Linked DNA regions of Homo sapiens: region 1 is linked to region 2. A link means that fine-mapping ties the variant in region 2 to the expression of a gene that starts in the linked region. Tissue or cell type: whole blood. Region 2 holds a variant in brackets; the other region holds the start of a gene. All regions are shown on one strand. Distances are from middle to middle. Region 1 holds the start of ADRA2A (adrenoceptor alpha 2A). Region 2 overlaps HEAT2 (HEart disease Associated Transcript 2).

Region 1 (5,371 bases), 42 kb after region 2:
TGCTTGCTCTGAAGAGCTGTGAGGGCTGTACCAGGCGAAGAGGGTGAAAATACCTTTAGGAAGCAATAGTGATTAGGGGTGGCCCACTAGGAAGATGGCTCCAGGTCAAGAGTGGCCAAACCAACAACTGGGGATGTGTGGGCCTGGCAGCAAGAAGCTTCCCTTGTAGGAGCAGCAGACGCCCGCCCGCAGGAGGCTGCAGAGCCACCCCAGACGAGGAAACGCAGAGCAGGCAGCGCCCGGGTTTCTGAGTGCCCTGGGGCTAAGCACCCCTCGATGCCCCCCGCTGCCTGCAGTCAGCGTGAGTCTACGCGGGCGCCAGCGGAAACCTCACACGATCCGCTTCCTGTCCCCCCGACAGAGGATCTTCTTGAAGGCGCGGCGGAAATCGTGGTTGAAGATGGTGTAGATGACCGGGTTCAACGAGCTGTTGCAGTAGCCGAACCAGAAGAAGAATTTGAAGAGCGTGCGTGGCACGGAGCACCCGACGGCCGTGAGCGTGTAGGTGAAGAAGAAGGGGAACCAGCACACCACGAACACTCCGATGACCACGGCCAGCACGAACGTGAAGCGCTTCTCGCGGTTCTGCCGCCCGCGCCAGCGCGACGCCTTGGCAGCCCCGACGCGCTCCTCCCCCGGCCCTGCAGCCGGCGTCCCGATCCCCGTCGCCCCCGGCCCGCGCCGCGGCAGGCTGTCGCCCGGCTTCACCTGGCTCGCTCGGGCCTTGCCTTTGCCCCGGGGACCGCGCTCGGGTCTGCGGGGCCCTGGAGGCCGCTCGGCGTGGTCGGAAGACGAGCTCTCCTCCAGGTCCAGCGCGTCGGTGTCGCGCGGCCCGGCCGGCGCGGGCTCGCCAGGGGCGCCGTTGAGCTGGGTGGGCAGCGGTTCGGCCTCTGCGCCCCCCGGGCCCGCGCTGCGCTCGGGGCCCAGACCGTTGGGCCTGCGCTCGGTGCCCCCCGGCGGCGCGGCGACGGCGTCCGGACCCCGGCGGCTGGGTGGCACGCGGGTGCGACGCTTGGCGATCTGGTAGATGCGCACGTAGACCAGGATCATGATGAGGCAGGGAGCGAAGAAGGAGCCGATGCACGACGAGATGACGTACCACTTCTGGTCGTTGATCTCGCAGCGCGGCTCGGCCGGCTGCGGGCCGCCGCCGCCGCCCTTCTTCTCGATGGAGATGAGCGGCGGGAAGGAGATGACGGCCGAGATGACCCACACGGTGATGATGATGGCCTTGATGCGGCGCGGCGTGCGCTTCAGGTTGTACTCGATGGCCTGTGTGATGGACCAGTAGCGGTCCAGGCTGATGGCGCACAGGTGCACGATGGACGACGTGCAGAAGAGCACGTCGAGCGCCAGGTAGATCTCGCACCAAGCCTTGCCGAAGTACCAGTAGCCCATGACCTCGTTGGCCAGCGAGAAAGGGATGACGAGCGTGGCCACCAGGATGTCGGCCGAGGCCAGAGACACCAGGAAGAGGTTTTGGGGCGCCTTGAGCGCGCGGCTCGTGAACACGGCGATGATGACGAGCACGTTGCCGAACACGGTGAGCAGCATGAGCAGGCCGGCCAGGCACACCAGCGTCAGCGTCACCTGCAGGGAGTAAGGGGTGGCCCGGGCGCCGCCCCCCGGCGCCTCGGTCCCGTTCCAGCTCGCGTTGCCCGCGTCCGGCTGCAGGGAGCCCATGGGCGCAAAGCTGCCCTCGGCCAACGGCTGCTCCTGGCGGAACATGAACGCGGGCGCCCGCTGGCCTGGGCCTGCTGCCAGCTGCCTTCCGGCCCGGCGCCCGTGGGTCCTCCTCTTCCTCCGGCGCCCCGCTCGCCTGGCTGCGGCTCACATAGGGAGGGGGCCGCAGGGAGGCCGGGCCCGAACTGGAGGACCGCTAGCGGCCCATGGCCCGGGTCCCGCGAACTGCGCCTGGCTCGCGCTTCAGACGCTCTCGGTGGGCGCCTTCTTGCTCCGAGCTCCTAATACAGCCAAGTTTTATTTCTAAGCGGCGGGAGAGAGTAGGGAGAGCCGATGGGTAAAGAGAGATTTATTCTTCAAGAAGGGAGAACAAAAATCATCGGTGGCCTGATAACTTGGAAGGATGACAGGAAATTAAATATATATATACATATCAATATCTGTATCTTGAATCTTGAGCCTGAGCGAAAGCAAGAGGTCTTACCGTGTGCGGGGCCCGCCCCCACCCCGGGAGGCAGCCGAAGGGTGCTGATGCGAGCTCGGGGGTCCTATGTCTGTCGCCTTACATCCCCGAAGCGATTACCGACTCTCTGGCTTCCCCCAGACGCTGCGGTTCTGGCCCGGCCCGGCCCGGGGCTGGGGCGCGGACTCTGCCGCCTCTCGGAGCGCCGCGAGACTTCCAAAGTTGTGCGCCCTGCTGGGGCTGGGGCACACTGTGCGGAGCTCCGGGACGGCGGCGGCGGCGGGGTGAGGAGTGTGGGGGCCGCATGAAGGCACCCCCGTCCTCAGGCGGGCCGGGGCAGGTGAACGATCAGCTCTCCAGGAGCCGCGACGGAGGCAGGGGTTCTCCTGGGCGTCCGCCTGGTGGGCGCCGAGCGCTGCTGGATGGGCCGGGGTCCGACGACAGCGCGAGTTGGGGCAGGAGCGCAAGGCGGGGAAGAAGGCGCTGGAGTGGCCGGGCGGCGGCACGCCGGCTGCTGGGCTTCTGCACCGAGCTGGAGCTGCTGCTGCTCCGCTGCGCTCACGGTGGACTCGTTTTATAGCCCCAGGATCAAGCAAGCGTTGCTGAGCAGCCGGCGTCAGCCCCCACGTGGGAAGCCGACCCTCCCCCGCCCCTCGCACCACCCCTCCGCCAGTCTAGCGCCCGCGCCTAGCGCTGGACCTCGGGGAGCGTTGCCCTCAGGCGGGACGAGCCCTTTGGAGAGGCGGGTACCTTGAGCTAGAGACTTAAAGAGGGAGCCCGGGGGTGGGGGGTAGGGGAGGAGCGGCCCCTGCTGGGAGTTGGCCATGCAGCTCCGGGCCGACGGAGCAGAACGCAACGGGCACCCGTGAGTGCCCCCAAGAAGCTGGATCTTGGGAGAAAAGGGAAGAAAAAAATGGAAGGGAATCCCCGCCCAAATCGAGGGAAGTAACCTCCGGTGTGAGTTACGTCTGGAGCAGCCCAGCTCCGGGCCAGAGCCGACGCGGTCCGCAGGTGCTCCTGGAGGCTGGGGAGAAAGGGGTCCTGGAGAGGGAGGAAGGCGCGGCTTCGGATGGAACCCCTGGGGCGGAATGGACAGCACCCACGGGGAAGTGGTACAAGCCGGAGTTCAGACCTCCGCTTAGGGAAGAAGCGGCTACGTGTCCTCCCAGCCGCGATGCTGTCTGCGGGAAACGCAAGACCCGGGGTCTGGACCGCGCCCCCTTAGACCGAGGTGGGGAGGGGTCCAGGAGCCGAGCGCCAGGGCAAAGCGAGGACGCACTGACACCTGCTGGCCGCTCGTGGTCACGGCTGAGAAGCGACCCGCTGACGCCAGGCGCCTCCTCCCGTCTCTTAGGTCTTCTGCCAACAGAGCCTTCTCCTATCTCCGAACAAATTGGTTTCTAAGCTCAGGAAAGGAGAACCCAGAGTTTGAATTGCACCCTGCCGTGTTGCAGAAATCTTCCTAAAGCAGATACTCGTGTGTCTACCCCTGGCGGGAGTGGGGGTTTGTCTAATAAAGTCACATCAGGAAGGGCTCAGCAGGCACCGCCGGCCAGAACGGGCATCCCACTCTGGACCCGCACAGCCCACCCTTCCTGCAGATCCGAGAGAGGCCAGGATCCTGCCTCCTTGGTTGCACAGCTCTGGCTTGCTGGGAATCATTATGTTTTTGTTGAGGACCGAAAGCTAGACTCCACTCCCGCCCCGCATCCCACCCCCATTCAGATGTACACACAGCATCCTTCAATAAGGGGAAGAGGGAGTAGAATATTTTCCATGTTCTCTCTGATAAGAATAGCGGTGGGGGCGGGGGGGAGTGGGTGTGCGGCGAATGGCAAGTTTTTCCGTGCGTGCTAGCTGTCCTAGGATAGATTTTAACGGTCACTAGAGCACTAGCTTGCACCCTGCTAGCTGCACTTTTCAGATGAGAGCAAGCAGTTTAATGGTAAAACCCAAGAGGGTAGGAAATTTCAGCAGGAGAGAGATTAGACTTAAAGGAATGTCGTCTTATTTAAGGAACCACTAAACCAAAATGCCTTGTGCAGTCACCTAAGTTGGAATTCCAAGGATGGAACAGGCTGCCTCTCTGTGCAGCCAGCTGCAGGCTTAGGTCTGGCTGGGGGCTGATGGCTAAATTAAGGGCCCTGAGAATCACCTTCATTCCCAGCTGATGTCTATAGCCCGCACCAGTGATACAGTTATTGGTGCTGCTGCTGTTCATGTAGTCTCAAAATCTGTACTTTCCAAAGTATTTCACAGAAGTCTCATTTGACTTCAGTACCTTTGTCTCCCAATCTTTGCCCTAATGGTATAAACTCCCTTTCCAGTGTTAGTTCTGAGGAGCCTTTCTAATCTCCCTTTCTGGACAATCTAAAGGAAGCTGAGAAGACAATTTCCTCGCTCTGTTGAGTCACTCATTTTCCATCTTCTACTAAAGTCTCTGCTCTGAGGCTCTTGGCAGGGGCTTTGGACATCGCCAGTAGGCTCAGTTGGAAACATGGCTACAGTCATTTTTGCACAGCAACTAGGAACCCCACACTTCAAGTATGAATACTAAGAGACAAAAATCAGAGCCCGTGGCAATCTGGGGTTTGCTGTGTTGCTGTTTGTAGAACTCGGGAACTGAGTCTTAGGAGACCATCACTTACCATCTGCACCCCAGCTTCCAACACACTGCTCTTCTTCCTAATTTCAGAATCAAAAGAGGAAATAAAAACAAAGTTTACAGTAATTATCTTTCTTGAAATTTCTGCTGCTAGCCTGTGTATGACACCTCTTGTCATATTTTCTAAATGCTTCCCAAACAGCCAGGTGGTTTCTTAATTCCCTGATTTGGAGTCTTTTCTCCTAAAATGGGAACAGGTCTTTTCAGAGCCAGGAACCCTGAGGCCAATACACAACGAATACCAATAATAACAAGTGCTGCATTTTATTAAGTACCATGATGTATGCACCATGTGTAGGGTGATATACATGGCCCCTTTATACACAGAGTTCTTATTCCTGTCACATGTTCCTTATCACCAAAGGTTCTGCCTCCTCAGTTTGTCACACAGGGTCAGTATCTCTGAGCTTTGAAAAGCTATGTGGACACCATTAATTTTTGCTAGAAGATTTCATGCTGTGCAAGCTGAGTGAGACATTGCTGAGCAGAAAGATATCCACAAATATAATAATTCTCAACCAGGCCTATAGATCAGCATTTCCTAGGAAGACAAAATACAC
Region 2 (5,371 bases):
AACAATCAGTGCCAGAGGAAACTGTTTTCCAGAAACCTATGTTAGTGCTTTAAGTGGCTGAAATGGCAGAGAAGTTTGGCTGCGTATAGGTGTATAGAAACAAGACAGCAATGGCTCAGAGCATGGGATGAGATGGAAGAGTCCTGAGTTCAGGTCTCAACTGCTGTTTCCTTATTTTATGACCATTGAAAGCCCTTTCACCCCTCTACATTCCCCTCCCTTACATGTAAAATGGGGGTGATATGAACACCTCCCTGAAGAGGCTGATATGAGAGTGAGAAATAGTTGCATAGCATTTACCACAATGCCTAGCACACAGTGAGTGCCACATAGTGGGAATAAATACTACCTATCACAATAAAAAAGGCCTTTGTGGCCAGGCACTGTGGCTTATGTCTGAAATCCCAGTGTTTTGTTTGAGAGGTCAAGATGGGAGGATTGCTTGAGGCCAGGAGTTTGAGACCCCCATCTCTACAAAAAATGAAAAATTTAGCTAGGCATGGTGGTGCACACCTGTAGTTCCAGCTACTCAGGAGGCTAGGATGGGTGGGAGGATCACTTGAGCCTGAAAAGTCAAGGTTACAGTGAGCCATGACTGCACCACTGCACTTCAGCCTGGGTGGCAGAGCAAGATCCTGTCTCAAAAACAAAAAAAAAAGGAGGAGGAGAGTCTTGTGACCAATCAGATGAACTGAAAGGCAAGATGCCATTGTGTGAGAACCAAGAAGGCCAGAGAAACTACTCAATTCTATGGCCCAACATAAGAGATAGAAGATAAAAATTCAAAGATTTACTAGGTGTTATGTTAGAGAAAACAAAAGTAATGCTCAATAATCACCCCCTACTCTCTTTCTAGGGAAATTTCCCAACTTCAGAGTAATGCATATGAGTCTGAACAAAGCATGGCAATACCAATGGGCTGAAGAGGCAGAAAACAGACTTCAAGGCAGCTGGAGAAGCTGGGAGTTGCAGGGCAGGATATCACAGAGGGAAAAGCTGAGGACAGAAGTCTAGAAGTCTTGCACCCTGGAAGTTGAAGACCGAGGAGTGGGCTGTATATGTTCAGGGTGTAACTATCTAGGTCTTATCAGAGAATGCCTACTACAAGTTTGAAAGCATAATAGAGAGGGTGAAGAGTGCTGGTGGACATAGCACTCTGACCCACACCTCATTAACATGCTGAGTACCCAAATAAGATATCAGACTTAAAGGAATTGAGGGAAAATGTTATCCTAATTCATAAACAGATGGCTATCTCAACAGGAAGAAAAACGAGAGCTGTACAATTGCTAATGCAAAAATTTTACTAGATGGGTTTAACATCAAATAGGAGAGAGCAGAAGAAAGAGTTAATAAACTAAAAAATCCATTGAAAGTATTAATCTGAAGAACAGAAAGAGATTAAAGAAAAATAACCAGAGCCTTGATGACTAATAGGAAAATATCAAATGACTTTGTATGTCTATAATTTGAATGCTAGAAGAAAAGAGAATGGGAATTTCTCCAGGAAAATCTTTGGAGACATTAATAGAAAAAAAATCCAAATTTGGTGAAAACTATTGACTTACAGAACCAAGAAGCTCAGTGTTTTACCCTGCTTTTTTCAAGTAGGATAAGAAAATTAGAAATAAAACCACAAAACAGCAAAACCTGACACATGATAGTTGAATTGCTGAAAGCCTCCCTTGCTTCACTCTGCCCCAACCCCTCTTCCTCCTAACCAGTCTGACTGGGACATTGCTATGACCTCAGAGTTGCCCTGGGCCAAGCAGCAGAGTTGAAGGAGAGGTACCTACCCTTAAGCTTGGTCACCAGCGAGATACGTACCAGGAGGATCCAGAGCCATGGGAGCAGCAGGCATGGGTGTAAACATGTGAGATGCGACTGCATAACACAGGTCAGAGCCCAGGTGCACACCACTGTCCATCTCTACAGAACAGAGCCCAGTGAGAGTTATAGGATGAGGAACACTATCTATTTCTTCAGAGAAATAAGGGTTGTCCCTCGGTCAAACATCAGCCAGGCTTCCCTCTGTATTCATCCATCTCCTCTGACCCCTAGAGCCAAGTCTACTTAAAACTGAATTCTGACTCCAGAAAAGAGAAGGTGTGTTACGGTTCTCCAGAGAAAAAGAAGAAACAGGAGAGAGAGAGAGAGAGAGAGAGAGAGAGAGAGAGAGAGAGAGCATGAATGTGGTAGGCTGGCAGGTTGGAGATCCAGGGAAGAGTTGTAGTTCAAGTCCACATGCAGTTTTCTGGCAGAAATCCTTCTTCTTCAGTCTTTTTCTATTAAGGGGGAAGTCAGTTTTTTTGGTTTTGTTTTTCTATTAAGACTTTCAACTGATTGGAGGAGGCTCACCCATGTTATGGATGGTAATC[G/T]GTTTTACTCAGTCCACTGATTTAAATGTTAATCTCATCTAAAAAACACTATGATAGAAATATCTATAATAATGTTTAATCAAATGTCTGGGTACCATGGCCTAGCCAAGTTGACTCATAAAATTAACCATCATACTATCATTCTGAGAAAATGTGTCTCCTGTAGGAAGGGCCTGTGCAGGACAAAGATGAGCCTGAGGACAGCACCAACTAAGGGTATAGAAAAGGGGCTGTGACACCAAAATCTAACATGCTCCAAGGCAGCACCAATGGAATTAAAGTGGCCCATTTCCTTCCAAGGAGACTAGACCCAGAGCTGCTCCAACTTAAGCATGTATGTGAACCACCAGCCTCCTGATCCAGGAGGTCTGGATGTGGGCGTGAGAGTGAGCAGTTCTCACAAGGCCCTGGTGGCTGCCTGTGCCGCTGGTCTCTGGGCCATAATTTGAGTAGCAGGGTGGAGGGCCTCAGAGCCTAGATTCCTAGGTCTCATCCCAGCTCTACTCTTCGTTTGCTGTGTAACTTTGAGCAAGGGAGGTACTTAACCTTCCAGAATCTCAGTGTCCTCATTGATAACGTGGGAGGTAACAATATCAACTTCAAAAGGTGATTGTGAGATTAAAAGAGAATATGAACATGAAGTACATGGATAGTTTGAGCTCAATAAAAGCTCCTAGCTACTATCATTATTATGGGCACCTGATTTTTAAAGAGTACATGTTAGGTAGGATATAAATAAATCTTATATTTGGTGATCAGCATGGGGAAAGGACCTAAACATACAGCCACAGGAAGAAACGTTGATAAAATTGAAACCATTCACTCTAGAGAGGAACAGATGTAGGAAGGAGGTGGGAGGGAAGTGGAGGCCCAAAAGAGGTGATGAAAGTCTTCCTGAACATTCTTGAAATGGAGCGTTCATGGAAATAAAGTGAGAGTTATCCTGCAAGCCTCCATGAAATTAACAAAGAACAAGATGTGGAGCTTCCTGGTAAGTCAAAATGAGATCAGTGACAAAGCTTGGGAGTATCCAAAGCTGACCAGAAATGAAGAAGGTTGTGTGAAGGTTGTGTGGACCACCAGAGGCACGACAGCAGACTGTGCCACCACCCCTTCACCAGAAAGCCAACAGGCTGGTGCCACAGATTCATGTGACAACGCCCACACCCTCCAAGCACTTCCAGAACTCCAGAGCAGCTCTGTCAATGGCTCTCCTGGAGCACGGCCTCCTTCCTGCACTCAGAGTCCCGGCGCTCCAGCTCTGCTGTCCAAGGGCCACTCCTGGGGGACAGTTGGCACATTCCAAGCTTAGTCACGATGCATCAGACAATTCATTCAGATTTCTTCAGTTCCATTACCAAGCCCTGTGGGAGCCAAATGGGAAAAAGAATCAATGCATAAGCTGGCCAGGGAAGTGGCAGTGTCCAAACAGCCTGCTCCCCATGAAAACACTGGCCTGTCCTTACCCCAGACCCCCAGACCAGGACTACCATGTTGCCAGGACAGTCAGACAGTCACACTATCCCATCTGACAACCACTGCTACACAGGCCATCTGCTCCATGGCCTCGGGGTTGCCCTTAGACCTCCTCCCCATGTCTCAGCAGTAGCAGTGGCCCCCAGGAGCAGCCCCACTCTGCTCCCCTCTCTGGGGCCTCCACACTGCTGTGCATTGCCCATGTACTTGTGAGGTCATCGAAACTCTTGGAACCTCAGTTTCTTCATCTGAAAAATGAGAACAAGAATAAGAATAATACCTACCTCACAGGGATGTCATGAGGTTAAAAGAGATAAAGATACCTAAAATATTTAACCTGATTCTTGGCATTTGGTACTGCAGAAATGTGGGCGTTACACCCCATGAGAGAGATACCCTGCCTTACCACAGAGGAGGCTCTAAGCAAGTGTTCATTAAACTGAATCATGCTGGAGAATACTCATGGCTCCCGGGTCTGAACTAAAGCAGATATCGGCAGTTGCTTCCCTCACCTCCTCACCCTTGTCAGCAGGAGCCAAGGTCACAAAGCTGGGGCCTCACCCTCTAAGCCCTACCCAGGGAGACAGGTGCTCTGCAGGGTTGCAGAAGCCCAGAGCTTACGCTAAGGGAGCTGCTTGAAATCACAGCTCCTTCCGGGCACCTCCCCAGCAGGCCTTGCTCCCAGCTCTGTCAGGCTCAAGCAGCTTTAGCCTGAACGTTCTGGCCTCGGCCTGACGCACCCCTCCCTCGATTAAAGGGCCACCCCCACCCACTGTCTGACCTATGGATTGGGACAGACCTGAGGGTGTCTGTGGCCTTGGACCCCCAATCCCCAGCCAGCCGGGGCTCCTGCCACTAGGCTTATTTGGGACAACTCAGTTAACAGTTGGACATCTGTCGTGTGCCAGGCTGCGTGCTAGGAACAGGGGAGGACCAGTGCTCGATGTGCAGAGGGAGGGAGGGATATGGCAGCGCCAACACCTGTCGCCTGGGGCGGCTGGGCAGGTCCACAGGGACCTCTCACAGATTCTGTAACAATGCAGATTCATAGGGCTCCTGGAAATGATTGCGTGGGGATACAGGGCACGTTCCTCAGAGAGGAACTTACAGACCGGTGGAGGAGATGTACTCCCGGCAGAGGACAGAGACCGGGGAGCACGGGTCAATCCTGGTGGGGCAGCAGGCATGAGCACCTGAAGCAGTGAAACATTTGTGGAGGGTCTTTCAGTGCCTGGAATCTGAATCAGGATGCTCAGAGAAACACTGACTGGGAAAGGAAGACACGCGCCTGCAGGTGCTGGTGTGTCCTGGAAGCTTCCATGGAGTAGAGGGCGATCTTAGAGCTCACCACCTCCACCAAAGCCCACCCTGAGGGGAGAGGCAGGCGTCATCTCAACCTCCCCCCTCCTTCAGAGCTGGAGACCCCAAATAGTTCAGGCACCCCCGCCCCTCTCTACACAAGCCTGCCGGAGGGACACAGGGACAGGGCTCCTTGCAGGGGGCCCGGGCCATCACAC

What was found. PIP is the estimated chance that this variant, and not a neighbour inherited with it, causes the effect.
Region 1: ADRA2A starts here. The variant in region 2 is fine-mapped to the expression of ADRA2A in whole blood (TOPMed, PIP 0.95).

What each region holds. Positions count from the first base shown.
Region 1 is chr10:111,074,354-111,079,724 of GRCh38, reverse strand. It overlaps ADRA2A (adrenoceptor alpha 2A), which reads right to left and starts at 2,696. Exons shown (of 1, transcript NM_000681.4): 1 at 1-2,696. The coding sequence starts at 1,728. The coding sequence ends at 331. RefSeq lists a silencer at 2,684-2,733.
Region 2 is chr10:111,116,331-111,121,701 of GRCh38, reverse strand. HEAT2 (HEart disease Associated Transcript 2) reads right to left here. Exons shown (of 3, transcript NR_159949.1): 3 at 3,106-3,742. Among named protein-coding and RNA genes, the nearest start is that of HEAT2, 4.7 kb to the right of the region's middle. The variant G/T (reference allele first, on the strand shown) is at 2,379.